3 separate regions of the Homo sapiens genome follow, and regions 2 and 3 are each linked to region 1. The links come from fine-mapping of genetic effects on gene expression. A gene starts in region 1. Each other region holds a variant in brackets. All regions are shown on one strand. Distances are from middle to middle.

Region 1 (4,348 bases):
TGAGGCTAGCTTGGGCTTAAGGGGGGAAAATGAAAGCAGCATGGCCTCTTGAGGCCTAGGCTTGGAATTTGTACAATGTCACTTGTGACACATCCCATTGGTCAAAGCAAGTTACAAGATCCCATCCACATTCAAGGGGTGAATAAATTCCACCTCTTCTTGGGAAAAGTGTCAAAGAATTGATGGCCATTTTTAGTCTACTATGCTAAGTGCAGCCCCTTCCCCCAAAGTTATCCTTAATGCAGTCCCTTTGTGCCTCCACTCTCCTCTTTTAATTCCCATGCTTTTCTTATCCTTTTAATAATAAGCTCTCACTTCACATCACCCAAAGCTTCGTTCATTCACTTGACAAATACTTACTGTGTGCCAGGACCTATTAGTGAACAAAACAAAGCCCGTGCTCTAATGAATCTAAGATTCTAGTGGAGAGAGCGGACAATCAAGAAATAAACAAGAACACAGTGTTGGGCTATGGTGAACAATAGGTGCTTTGGAGAACAACAGAGCAGACTAAGTGCGGACTGTGTGTGAGGATAGCAGGGCAGTGGGTGGTTCCTATTATATGAAGTGGTCGGCTGTATCAATGAGGTGATATATAAGCAGGGTATTGAACGAAGTGAGGAGCAAGAAGTTCCAGGCAGAGCAAATAGCACGCGCAAAGGCCTGAGGCTGGCATGGAGAGGCAATTCCTTACAATTTCATATGTAGTAAAAAGTAACAAAACCCAGAAAAACACCAACCTTAATACATCTCATTAAAGAACAATACAACCCAAACATTTAAATATGGTAAAATCTTGATAAGCAAAAGCTTTTTATTTTACTTCATTTTTACTTTTATAAAAGCTCCTAATGCAATGACGTGTGTCACCTCTCTGGGCTTCAGGGTGTTCACCTTTCAAAAGGCCTCGGTGCCTGTCTGTCCTGCTTCCTGGCTTGTGGTTAGCATCAAAATGACACCATAAAAATGAAAGTTGCAGCCTTGAGGGTTCTTCTGGTTTCATTTCCGACCACAAGGTTGCCAGAGTGACTTTTTTTTTTTTTTAAATAACACAAATCAGTTATCACTTCCTGCTTAAAGCCCTCCAAAGGTTCCCTGTTGCCTAAAGAATAAACTCCAGGCACCTAAGCAAGCCCCACGCAGCCGTCTGCATTTTTCAATCCCTCCAACCTCGCCTTTTGCTATTTCCCCCACCCCACCTACGGCACGTTCCGGTCATAACCAACTAGCTCCTCGCTGAAACTGGCTCACACCGCGGAAGCCCGGGTCGGTGTCGGGGCGAGCCTTCCCTCCTTTTCCTGGAGCCCGTCTCAGGTCTGTAGCCCTCGGGAGGGATTGCAGGGCTCGTTCCCTGCTGGCGTTCATTTAGGTAACCTGTCTACCTCCAGTGGACTTCTAAGTCCCTTTCATGATTTTTCATCTTCCAAAATCAAATAATGGCCCAGCCCAACTTAGCTATAATGCCATGAAAAGAATCTCTGAGCCTCAGTTTCCTTGTCTGCAAAAAGGGCCCAGGAACCGCTCGTTAGGGTCGGTGTGGTGCCTGGAGAGTGCACTGCAAGGCCCGGGGCCCGCAGCGGGTGCCCGACAGCGGGCGTCCAACTCTGGGGGCGGGGCCGCAGGGCCGCTCAGGAGGGAGGTTCTCCAGAGGGGACCCCTTCGGGATTTGGGGGCAGGGAAGGAGATGGGGAGGACTTTCCCGAAGTCCGTCTAATCCCGCTGGCGGAGAGCGAGGCAGGTGGGACCCCAGGATGTCCGCTCGGCGGGGCGACCCCGGCCACCCCCGAGACCAGGGCTTTCCTCGTCCGGCCGCCACGCCCGCGCGCAGCCTCGGGCCACCCCGAAACCCCGGCGCGGTCACTACAGGACAAATTACGCGAGCAGAGCCTAGCGGCGCGCTGGGCATGCGCGGGGGCGGCGCGCATGCCCAGTCCCCCCGAGAGGCGGGAACTCCGGACTGAGACCGGGTCGGGCGTGCGCTGCCGAGAGAGGACGCGCGCCTCAGCCGGCTGCCGCGCACGCGCGCGGGCCCGCGCCGACGCAGCACGGCCTCGAGGGCGCGAGCCCGCGCCGCCGCCGCCGCCGCCGGTCCCGGACCACTGTGAGCCCGCGGCGTGAGGCGTGGGAGGAAGCGCGGCTGCTGTCGCCCAGCGCCGCCCCGTCGTCGTCTGCCTTCGCTTCACGGCGCCGAGCCGCGGTCCGAGTGAGTGCGGGGCGCCGGGCGCGGGGCGCGGGTCGGGGGCTGGGCGGGCTCCTTCTGTGCAGCGGTCGTGGGCTGGGCCGCGGCCCTGAGGGCGGAGGGGCAGAGCGGGGCCGCCCAACCAGTCCCGGGGCGGATGCGGCGGAGACCGGCCCCTCCCGCGCCCCCGGCCCGGGTTCTGGGAGGAGGGGAGGCCGGTGGCCGTGAGGAGGTTGGGGGCCCTCGCGGAGGCCGAGAGGCTTAAGGAGGTCAGGGGGCGCGCTGGGAGGCGGGGGTTCGGGGCGCTGGGTGGTCGGGAGGCTTGGGGAAGACTGGGAGGCTGAGGGACGTGGGGAGGCCGGGAGCTCGAGGAGGTCGGGGGTTTTGGGGGCGCGCGGGGAGGCCAAGGGGTTCGGGGAAGACAGAAAGGCTGGGGGACGTGGGGAGTCCGGGAGACGTGAGGAGGAAGGGGGGGGCGGCTTTCGAAAAGGCCGGGCGCGCGGAGAGGCCGAGGGGCCTGAGGAAGACGAGGAGGCCGGGGCTCTGGGGGCGCGCAGGGCGGACAGAGGCGCGGGGAGGACGGGCCGGCCTCCGCCGGAGCGGACCCAATGCCTGAAAAACAAAAGGGGAGAGGCAGGAGGAGGAAGAGGGAAATCGCAGGGACGTCGGCAGGGTTCGCCCGGACGCGAGAGGGAGGCTCGCGACGGCCCGACCTCCGTCCCCCGGGCGCGGCCTCGCGGGCAGCCAAGGGTGGGCTCCGAGCGGCCTGCCGGTGCCCGAGCCCCAAGCCCGCCGTGTCCCCGAACGCAAACCCTCAAGTTTGGTAGAGCCCCGTGGGCTTCTTGGCGGGAGCCCTGGAGCCCTCACTGAAGTCCTCACTGGAGTCATTGTGCTTCCCAAGTTTTCTCCTCTTCCCCGCCCCCAGCCCCCGACTCTGCCGCGGTGGCTTAGGCGCAACTGTTTGCCGAATTTCTCTCTGGGTTCCTTGTGTAGCGGCATCCTGTTCTTTCTTAGAAGAAGGGGTGTGTGTGTGTGTGTGTGTGTGTGTGTGTGTGTGTGTGAATTGGTTTCATTTAATTGCAGAATTTTGTAGCTAAATTCAGTGAGGGTAAAGTTTCTTTTTTTTTTTTTTTCCGAGTCATTTCAACAGTGTCTCATTCTTGCATAGTTAGCCTGCAGCTGGGTTTTTGGCAATGAGACTAAGATAATAGTAATATTGTAGTAATTATGGGAACTGGTTATACATTCAAGCTGAAAGCTGAAGGCAGTGCAAGAGTTTGGGGATTTGTATTTAAGACTTAACCATCGCTAGGATTTTTACTTAGAATGTAAACGTTTTCATGGCTGGAAAAACAGACCAGTACTATTTGAAATGAAATACCAGAGCCTCAACCTTAATATTTTATTTGGGAAACGGGTAATGAAAATGATGTCTTCGAGAGTTGAGCACTCCGTCCCATATTTGAAAACTTATGAGCAGTGCGATGCAAGCACACGGATGAACTAGTTACAAGACACATAAAAGTAAACTAGCATTCAACGTATTTTTGTTGGGGTACAGTATAGATAATATTTTCATCCAGTTATACTAGCCAATTAATTAGAAAAGCCCTATGATATTCAAACAAGGAACATTTTAAGGATGTTTGTGTCCCAATATCTTTGTGTTTTGTATTTGTGGTTATCCTTGGTGGGGAAAAACAGGCTGAACCTACCATCATTTTGAACCTTCTTGTTTATTAAACTGCAGAAACAACAAGATCAATATTACAAGGTTTTCCTTTAAAGAATTTCAGGTCACTATCAAATAATCTAGTTTAATAATGAACACAGGCACAGATTATTTAAAACACATGCTTCCTTTATAAGGGAGCCGACAATCACCTAAGACTTCAGTGTAGACGCTGATTAGAAGGACCCATACATCATTCAGTGGTGATGCATCAAGAAGCAAGTCATTGGTTAAATAAAGACATGGAAATCAAAACTCCATGTTTACGGTTTGGGGCAAAGAATACTGGGGCAAACTCTGAGAGGAGATGGGACTTAAAAAGCCTTATTATTTGAGGCTGGAAGCCCATTGAAAGTGAATAATGTTAGATTAGGAGTGAAGTTCCATGAATCCAGCAGTGAAATTGTGAGGAGGCAGTGAGGATCATTAAAACGTTT
Region 2 (4,348 bases), 43 kb before region 1:
GTACTCGGCACTTTGTCACTCATTCTGCTCAAGTAATCTCATTGGCATCTCCTGGGTGTTGGCAAAATGATTCTCTCTGAGTTACACATAGGAGAATGAGGCCCAGAGAGTGTCATGACTGGCCACATATAAATTGGTAGAGCTGGGTTGGACCTAGGCAGCCTGACTCCAAGCCCGTAGGCATGGCCACCAGGTTTTGCCACCTCCTAGTGCGCCTGCAGAAAAGGTTCTGAAGTCCTCCTATCTGGGGCTGCATTTCTGAAAATGTCAGCTCTTGGTTTGTGGCTCTGAGCCACCCCTGCTAACAGCCCCCTCACTGATCTCTTTGCTGCCAGCTCCCCGCCCCTCAATTTCCGCCACACTGCCGCTGGAATCTCACCAAGCCACTCCTCGGTGTGGTCAGGGGCTCTCAACATGGAATCAGCCTGAGCTGCTTCTTCTTTTTCTTTGAGACAAGATCTCACTCTGTTGCCCAAGCTGGAATACAGTGGCGCGATCTCAGCTCACTACAACCTCCGCCTCCTAGGCTCAAGCGATCCTCCTGCCTCAGCCTCCTCAGTATCTGGGACCACAGGCACAGGCTACTATGCCAGGCTATTTTTCTTTTTTTGTATTTTGGTAGAGATGAGGTTTCATTATGGTGCCCAGGCTGGTCTCAAACTCCTGAACTCAAGCAATCTACCCACCTTGGCTTCCCAAAGTTCTGGGATTACAATCTGAGTTTTCTCTGTTGTTGTTGTTATTGTTTTTTGAGACAGAGTTTTGCTCTTGTTGCCCAGGCTGGAGTGCAGTGGCACGATCTTGGCTCACCATAACCTCCGCCTCCCGAGTTCAGGTGATTCTCCTGCTTCAGTCTCGTGAGTACCTGGGATTACAGGCATGCACCACCACGCCCAGCTAATTTTGTATTTTTAGTAGAGACGGGGTTTCTCCATGTTGGTCAGGCTGGTCACGAACTCCTGACCTCAGGTAATCCACCTGCCTCGGCCTCCCAAAGTGCCGGGATTACAGGCGTGAGCCACTGTGCCCGGCCACAACCCGAGCTTCTTAAGGCCTTCACGATCAAGCTCATTATTTATCCCCCATTATAATCACCACCTCCTCATGGCAACACACACATGCATGCCTGCACACCCTCATACACCTATGTGTATGCACACATAGACACGTGTGTGCATACGTGACTACGTGTTGTGTGTGCACATGTATAGGTGCAGGTGGGCACATGGGCACACACAACCATACACAGAAATGTTACATCCCTCTGACCAGAGTGAACCACCTCCTGTTTCCATGGAGCCTGCACTTCCCCACCCACTGCCTCGCTGTGGGCTCTCCCCGCACCTGTTGCCTGCTGGGTTCCTACCCAGCTAAAAAGATGAGGCAGACACTGCCCAGTGCCCTCCCAATATCCTTACTAAGCTCTGACTTTGTTCTGCCATGCTCAGGTCAAAAATCTCTTTTGCCGTAAGGAGTGGCCTTGGGGCCTAGCTCAAAAGCCCACCAACTCAGCCAGTGTGAGCCTGGCTGACTTTTTGCTTTTCAACCCTTACCCTTTCCTCCTTCCCTCCTGGGCTGTAAGCCCAAAGCCTAGAAATAGAGCTGCCATGTCGCAGCATGAGGACAAGCACCACGCTCTACAGAGGGTAGAGTGGGAAGCTGGAAGGAGCCGCATCCTTCACAGCCTTCTCGAGTGGCTGCTGCGGCCCTGGACTGCCTCCCTCCAGGCTTCTTGCTTTGTGAGAACAGTAAGTCTCTAATGGGCAAGCCGCTATGGATAGTTGCTGGCATATGTAGCTGGCTGAAATCCTAATTGGCAGAAAGACCAGTTCACAGGACACCTCCCCCAGTAAGCCTTCCTGGATTCCCCTGCCAGATTTATCTGGTGCTCTGTATTCTTATCACACATGGTGAATTATGTCATCATCGCAGTTAATGTACATTGTGACTCCAGATCATTAGATTCACCTGTCCTTCACTCACAATCAAATGTAAATTTCCTAGGACAGGTCCATCTCACTTGCCCAGCTATCCCACATACGTCTTAGCCTAGTGCCTGCCAAGATGTCTCTGTACAATGTTGAAGACAGAACAGAGGCATCACTCATGGAGCCCGGGTTCACGTCCTGGCCACCATGACCCAGCTCTGTGATGCTGAGTTACCTGTGTAAGCTGCTGTTTCTCCATCTATAAAACTACAACCATTCATCTCCTAGGTATTGCAATGTTCAAATGAGTTCATCCATATGAATAAGATTTGGAGACAGAAAAGCTGCACTGTACAAAATGGAAATTATCATCAACGTCACTGTCTGGTAAGGGCTGCTGAATCAGAGCCTTGTCATTCACTTAGGACCACAAATAGCAACACACACACACACACGATACACACACACAAACCACACACACAGGCATGGACAAATCTCTTAAGCCAAAGCAACTTGAACTTCCCTTGGAGGCCACCCAAACCAACCTTAACCACAAG[A/G]TAGTTCAAGCTTGATGACATGGTGCTGATTTGAGAACTAGTTGGACTTCTATATGTTGTTTTCTTTGGACCACATGTGGTGTCATCACTGTATATTTTAGCATGTGGAGTCCCTGCTCCCTCACACTGAGACACAGGGGAGGCCTTTATATGGCTTCACAAGTGAGAGAGCTGGACATAAAAAAAATCTTTCCAGCCAGGCATGGTGGCTCACCCCTGTAATCCCAGCACTTTGGGAGGCTGAGGCGGGTGGATCACGAGGTCAAGAGTTGGAGACCAGCTTGGCCAACATGGTGAAACCCAGTCTCTACTAAAAATACAAAAATTAGCGGGCATGGTGGTGTGCGCCTGTAATCCCAGCTACCGGGAGGCTGAGGCAAGAGAATTGCTTGAACCTGGGAGGAGGAGGTTGCAGTGAGCTGAGATTGAGCCACTGCACTCCAGCCTGGGAGACAGAGCAAGACGCAGTCTCAGAACAAAACAAAAAACAAAAGAAAACAAAAACCCTTCCAACCAAGGCTGTCTAACTTGAGGTTTGGAGAGACACCCTGGCCCCTCCCAGTGCCTGCAGCAAGCAGAAAGCCCCTACTCCAGGCCTGCAACCGGGCCTGGCAGGGGCAAGAAAACCCAGCCTGGCTCAGGGCTGGCTCGAGGTAGGCAACCAGGGGGCTGAACCCAGGGTCAGAGGGTCCCAGGCCTCTCTCCCTCATGGTTCAGAAACAGTACCCAGGTTGCTCGTTCATTCAACAGACATTGCATGAGCACCAACTGGGTGTCAGGCCCTGGGCTCAGCTCAGGGAGTACAGGCTAGGGAAGGAATAGAAAAGAGACAAACATCTTCTGGGCACCCTCCTTGGGCCGTGCACTGTATTGGATAATTTCAAGAATTTCAGGCCGGGCGCGGTGGCTCACGCCTGTAATCCCAGCACTTTGGGAGGCCGAGGCGAGCAGATCACAAAGTCAGGAGATTGAGACCATCCTGGCTAACACAATGAAACCCTGTCTCTACTAAAAATACAAAAAATTAGCCCGGCGTGGTGGTGGGCGACTGTAGTCCCAGCTACTTGGGAGGCTGAGGCAGGAGAATGGCGTGAGCCCGGGAAGCAGAGCTTGCAGTGAGCCAAGATCACGCCACTGCAATCCAGCCTGGGTGACAGAGAGAGACTCCGTCTCAAAAACACAAGAACAAAAAAAAGAATTTCATTCAATTCCTGCACTGTAATCCCAGCTACTCGGGAGGCTACCCTTTGAGGCATTTGCTTATTTTAAATAGGTGTGAACAACTTTACCGGCTTAAGATACAAATAACATCGATTTTAAATATTAAAATTACTCTTACTGGAGCCTCCCAGATCAGCAGGAAGGCCACCCTATCTCTCTCTGTCTTTCTCTTTCTCTGTTTCTCTCTCTCTTCCCTTCCTTCCTGCCTTCCTCTCTCTCTCACTTTCCCTCCTTCTTGCCTCCTGTTTAGAGAGAGGAGAAGCTCAGAGCGGCCTTTTTGTGGGCCTGGGTTTCGCCTGCCAATGCTCTGCCACACACCTACCATATGGTCGGGTGCCACCCTTGCTCAGAGGTGTGATCCTGCACATCTGGCCCGGCAGCAGCTTCTTGTGAATGCGGTTGGGGGTTGGGCAAAGAAGGTCATCCCCAGGGCCACAGCCATACCACAGGGCTGGGCTCGCTCCCTTTAACAATGAGGGTTAGCCTGAGGCCCTGCACAGACCACAGTTACTCTTCAGGGCATGTAACTCAGCACCATACACCTTGCCAGGGTGAGTAGGAGTCAGGCCCCACCTCTCTCCACATCCACTTTGTTCCTCTCATGCCCTGACATGCTCATTAGCAGGAAATCCAACATCTCCA
Region 3 (4,000 bases), 310 kb after region 1:
TTGAAGTTTTCTAGAGCCATACCCACATGAAAGTAGAGACTGTAGCTAAGCCGAACTGTTTTTTTTTTTTGGCTTGTTTGTTTTTGTTTGTTTTGAGACGAAGTCTTACTCTTGTCCCCCAGGCTGGAGTGAAATGGCGCAATCTTGGCACACTGCAACCTCCGCCTCCCGGGTTTAAGCGATTCTCCTGCTTCAGCCTCCCGACTAGCTGGGACTGCAGGTGCCTGCCACCATGCCCGGCTAATTTTTGTATTTTTAGTAGAGATGGGGTTTCACCATGTTGGCCAGGCTGGTCTTGAACTCCTGACCTCAGGTGATCCACCCACCTCGGCCTCCCATAGTGCTGGGATTACAGGTGTTAGCCACTGCACCTGGCTGAGAATCTATTCTTTCTGATTGGCTGTCTTTGGCTGTATTGCTCTTCAGTTCCCAATAGGCACTCATCTTTCATTCAGGAGGTCCGTGTATGCTCTATGAAAAGAAAAAGCTCAAGTATTTATTTCATTCACAGAACACAAGTAGATTTTATATGGATAAGCCTTTCTCATTTTAAAATTAAAATCCTGTCTTTAGGAAAATACCACATTAGGGAATTATGCATTAAAGAAAGTCATTTCATGAAATGTATATGGAAATAAAAATAGATTAATTCATGTAAACACATGAAACAATACCTTATTCTATAGGCAAAAATATGAGTTGCATTTTTTGTTTAAGTAAAACAGTAAATATTTCCTGCCTGTAGAAGGTTCTTATTATCTGTTGACTGATTGAAGCCCACCTCCACTGTTTAAGAGCTGTGTTACCCCAAGCAACTAAATCTTTCTAAGTCAAGTTCCTCGTCTATAACATATCTCTTGTGCCTTGGATATTAATTGAAGCATTCCTTCAGCAAATATTTACTACACATCTATGTGCACAATGCTGCCAGGCACTTCTTTCATTCTGATAATGACTGACTGAGGTATTATTCTGCCTATTTTACAGGTGAGGAACTGGGCCTAGAGAGGTTATATGCCTTGTCCAAAGAGGCATGGACAATCAGTTCACTAGAAAAATGCACAGGGCATTCATTTCCTCCACCTGTTTGTCCGGTGTTCTAGCAGGTAACAGAGACGCAGCGGTGAGGCAGACAGCTTCATAGCCTCTGTCTTCATGGAACTTAGCATCTCATGATAAGAAACAAAAATGGTCAACTATTTGGGGAAAGGGAGGAGGAGAGGAGCAAATTACAACAATATATTATACAGTATTTTCTTTATGAATTGGTTGAGAGTTTTAAAATGATAATACAGTGGTGTTAGGGTACAGTGAGAGAAATGCTATCACATATTGCTACATAGATGAAAATCAGGACAGCCTTGAGCAGTTTGGAAACTTATACCAAGATTTTTCAAATGTTCAAACTCTTTGACTTAGTAATTCCTTTCTTAGAAATCTGCTCCAGAGACAGGAAGATCACTTGAGCACAGGAGTTTAAGACCAGCCTGGATAACATAGTGAGACCCCCCA[C/G]CCCCAACCATCTCTAAAAGAAGAAGAAAAGAAATCTGTCCCAGGGAAATAATCAGGGACTTAGTCAAAGATTTGTATACAAAGGTGTTCATCTACAGCCTATTTATGAGGGATTTTGAAAATGACCCTAATATCCAACAATAAAAGAACTATTTATTTTAACTCTTGTGTGGCACCAACTTAGTACTTTGCAAATATTAACTCATTTCATCCTCCTAACAATCCTATGTGTTGGTTACAATTACTGTTCCATTTTAGAAATGAAGAAATTGAGGCCCAGGTCACACAGCTTGTAAGGACTGGATCCTCATTAGAACCCAGGCCACCTGGTGCCACAGCTCCCACCCTTCACTACCATTGTCTATTTTATGATGATAATCATGCAGTGGAACGTTGTGCAGCCTTAAACATTGTTTTGTCAGTTTGCCCTATATAAATGTTATGTGAAGGCTGTAGAATCATATGTTGTGGTTCCATGTTTGTAAACATACATTTACACCACAGTATTAACTAATGATAATTACTTTTACATTTTAATTACTCCATAATAACTAATGATAATTACTTCCAAATGGTAAGGTTGAGTGATTTGTAATTTTTTCATCTATTTTTGCAGTATCTTAATTTTTCTACAGTAAGTGCATGTTTCTTTTGTTAGATTATTGACAAATGAGGTATACAATATTTTAAAATAACCAAAATCATGTAACTATTAAATGACCACATCGTAAGTTGGGCCTGGTGGGTCTTTTGTTTTCTTAGACTATAGCTCTAACTGGGCGTGGTGGCGTGCATGTATAGTCCCAGCTACTCCAGAAACTGAGGCGGATGATTGCTTGAGGCCAGGAGTTCGAGGCTGTAATGCACTATGATTGTGCCTGTGAATAGTCGCTGCACTCTGACCTGGGCGGCAGATCAAGACCCTGTCTCTTAAAAATAGAAACTGTTGGCCTGGCGCGGTGGCTCACGCCTGTAATCCCAGCACTTTGGGAGGCCGAGGCGGGCAGATCATGAGGTCAGGTGATCGAGACCATCCTGGCTAACCCAGTGAAACCCCATCTCTACTGAAAATACAAAAAATTAGCCGGGCGTGGTGGCGGACGCCTGTAGTCCCAGCTACTCAGAAGGCTGAGGCAGGAGAATGGCATGAACCCGGGAGGCAGAGCTTGCAGTGAGCTGAGGTCATGCCACTGCACTCCAGCCTGGGAGACAGAGGGAGACTCCATCTCAAAAAAATAAATAAATAAAAAATGAAAATAAAAACTTGTCCTTTCTGCTACAGTAGAGTCAAACCTAATCACCTCCACTCTCTGTTTAGAGCCCTTCAACAGAACCCCTAAGCAGAACCAGCTCCCAGCTGGTCCCTCAAGTGAATGGGCAGAAGAGGAAAGGATAGTTTCAGAGTTTTTTAAAGTTACAAGAATGGTACAAAGAATTCCCATGTTCCCTTTACCTAGAGTCTCCAGTTGTTAACATTTGACCTCATTTGCTTTGCATATTTGTACATACCATTTTTTCTGAACCATTTGGAAGTAAATACCAGATATCCTGCTTTTTAACTCTTAAATAGTTCAATGTGAATTTCCTAAAAATAAGGATGTTCTCTTAAATAACCATAGCTGAGTTAACCAATGTCAGGAAATTAACAATAATACAATACTGTTAGCTAATCAATGGACTATTCATATTTTACCAGTTGTCCACAGAATGCCCTTTCTAGAAAAAAGTCCTGGATCATGAGTTATATTTAGTTATCACATCTCTTGAGTTTCCTTTAAGCTTGAACAGTTCCTGGGTCTTCCCGAAATCTTTCCTGACCTTGATATTTACATTGAGTAATGTTCTGTGAATTGTCAACCTGGAGTCTCGTCTTCTCAGGTACTTTTTCTCAAAGTCCATTGTGTTTTGGAATATTTTTTCTTAAGCATATCTGGGATGTTTGGGCCCCACAAAGCTGCCTCTTCATTCAGGCAGTGGCAGAACCTCAGCATTCCATGGAATAGGATCTGTGAGTTCTGCTACATGGAATAGGACCTCCCCAGTGAGTTCCCCTTCAGTTGCCAGTTGGAATCAATGTATTACGTGTGTTTGCTTGGTTTCCTTTCTGTCTATTCATGTCTATCTTACCTGTCAGAGAAGATTCTATCCTAGAAGTCAGGAACTACCTACCTCTGAATTTTCTCTTGAGCTATATTTCACACCCAGCCACAGCTGTCTATATCTAATGGGATAGTCCTCTCTGGTAAAAAACACAGCATACTTTCTGCCATAGTCGCCAACTGCATGCCTCTAGGTTTGACTTCCCCTGTATGGGCATTAGTTATATATATCACATCTGCAGTAAGAATTCATTTTTTAAATTATTGTTCCTTGATATTATAGTACATATAAACACAGTACAATGTTTTAAGTTATGCTCTTCAGAGTTCAGAAATATTTATTCTGAACTTTTCTGGTTTACTCATTGAGAGAGTTCTAACAGAGCAGA

Direction of the effects. Positions count from the first base shown, and alleles are read on the strand shown. Sizes are in standard deviations (SD) of each study's normalised expression. Not every link is listed here.
As copies of A replace G in region 2, the expression in fibroblasts of the gene that starts at base 2,046 in region 1 goes down (moderate effect, 0.63 SD a copy in GTEx).

What was found. PIP is the estimated chance that this variant, and not a neighbour inherited with it, causes the effect.
Region 2: its variant is fine-mapped to the expression of PTK2 in fibroblasts (GTEx, PIP above 0.99).
Region 3: its variant is fine-mapped to the expression of PTK2 in whole blood (TOPMed, PIP 0.95).

What each region holds. Positions count from the first base shown.
Region 1 is chr8:140,998,980-141,003,327 of GRCh38, reverse strand. It overlaps PTK2 (protein tyrosine kinase 2), which reads left to right and starts at 2,046. Exons shown (of 36, transcript NM_001352702.2): 1 at 2,046-2,203. RefSeq lists silencers at 1,612-2,031, 2,052-2,381.
Region 2 is chr8:141,041,552-141,045,899 of GRCh38, reverse strand. No RefSeq gene overlaps it. Among named protein-coding and RNA genes, the nearest start is that of PTK2, 42 kb to the right of the region's middle. RefSeq lists an enhancer at 3,661-4,348. The variant A/G (reference allele first, on the strand shown) is at 2,486.
Region 3 is chr8:140,688,712-140,692,711 of GRCh38, reverse strand. The region is part of intron 29 of PTK2 (protein tyrosine kinase 2); the gene reads left to right. Among named protein-coding and RNA genes, the nearest start is that of MIR151A, 42 kb to the left of the region's middle. The variant C/G (reference allele first, on the strand shown) is at 1,513.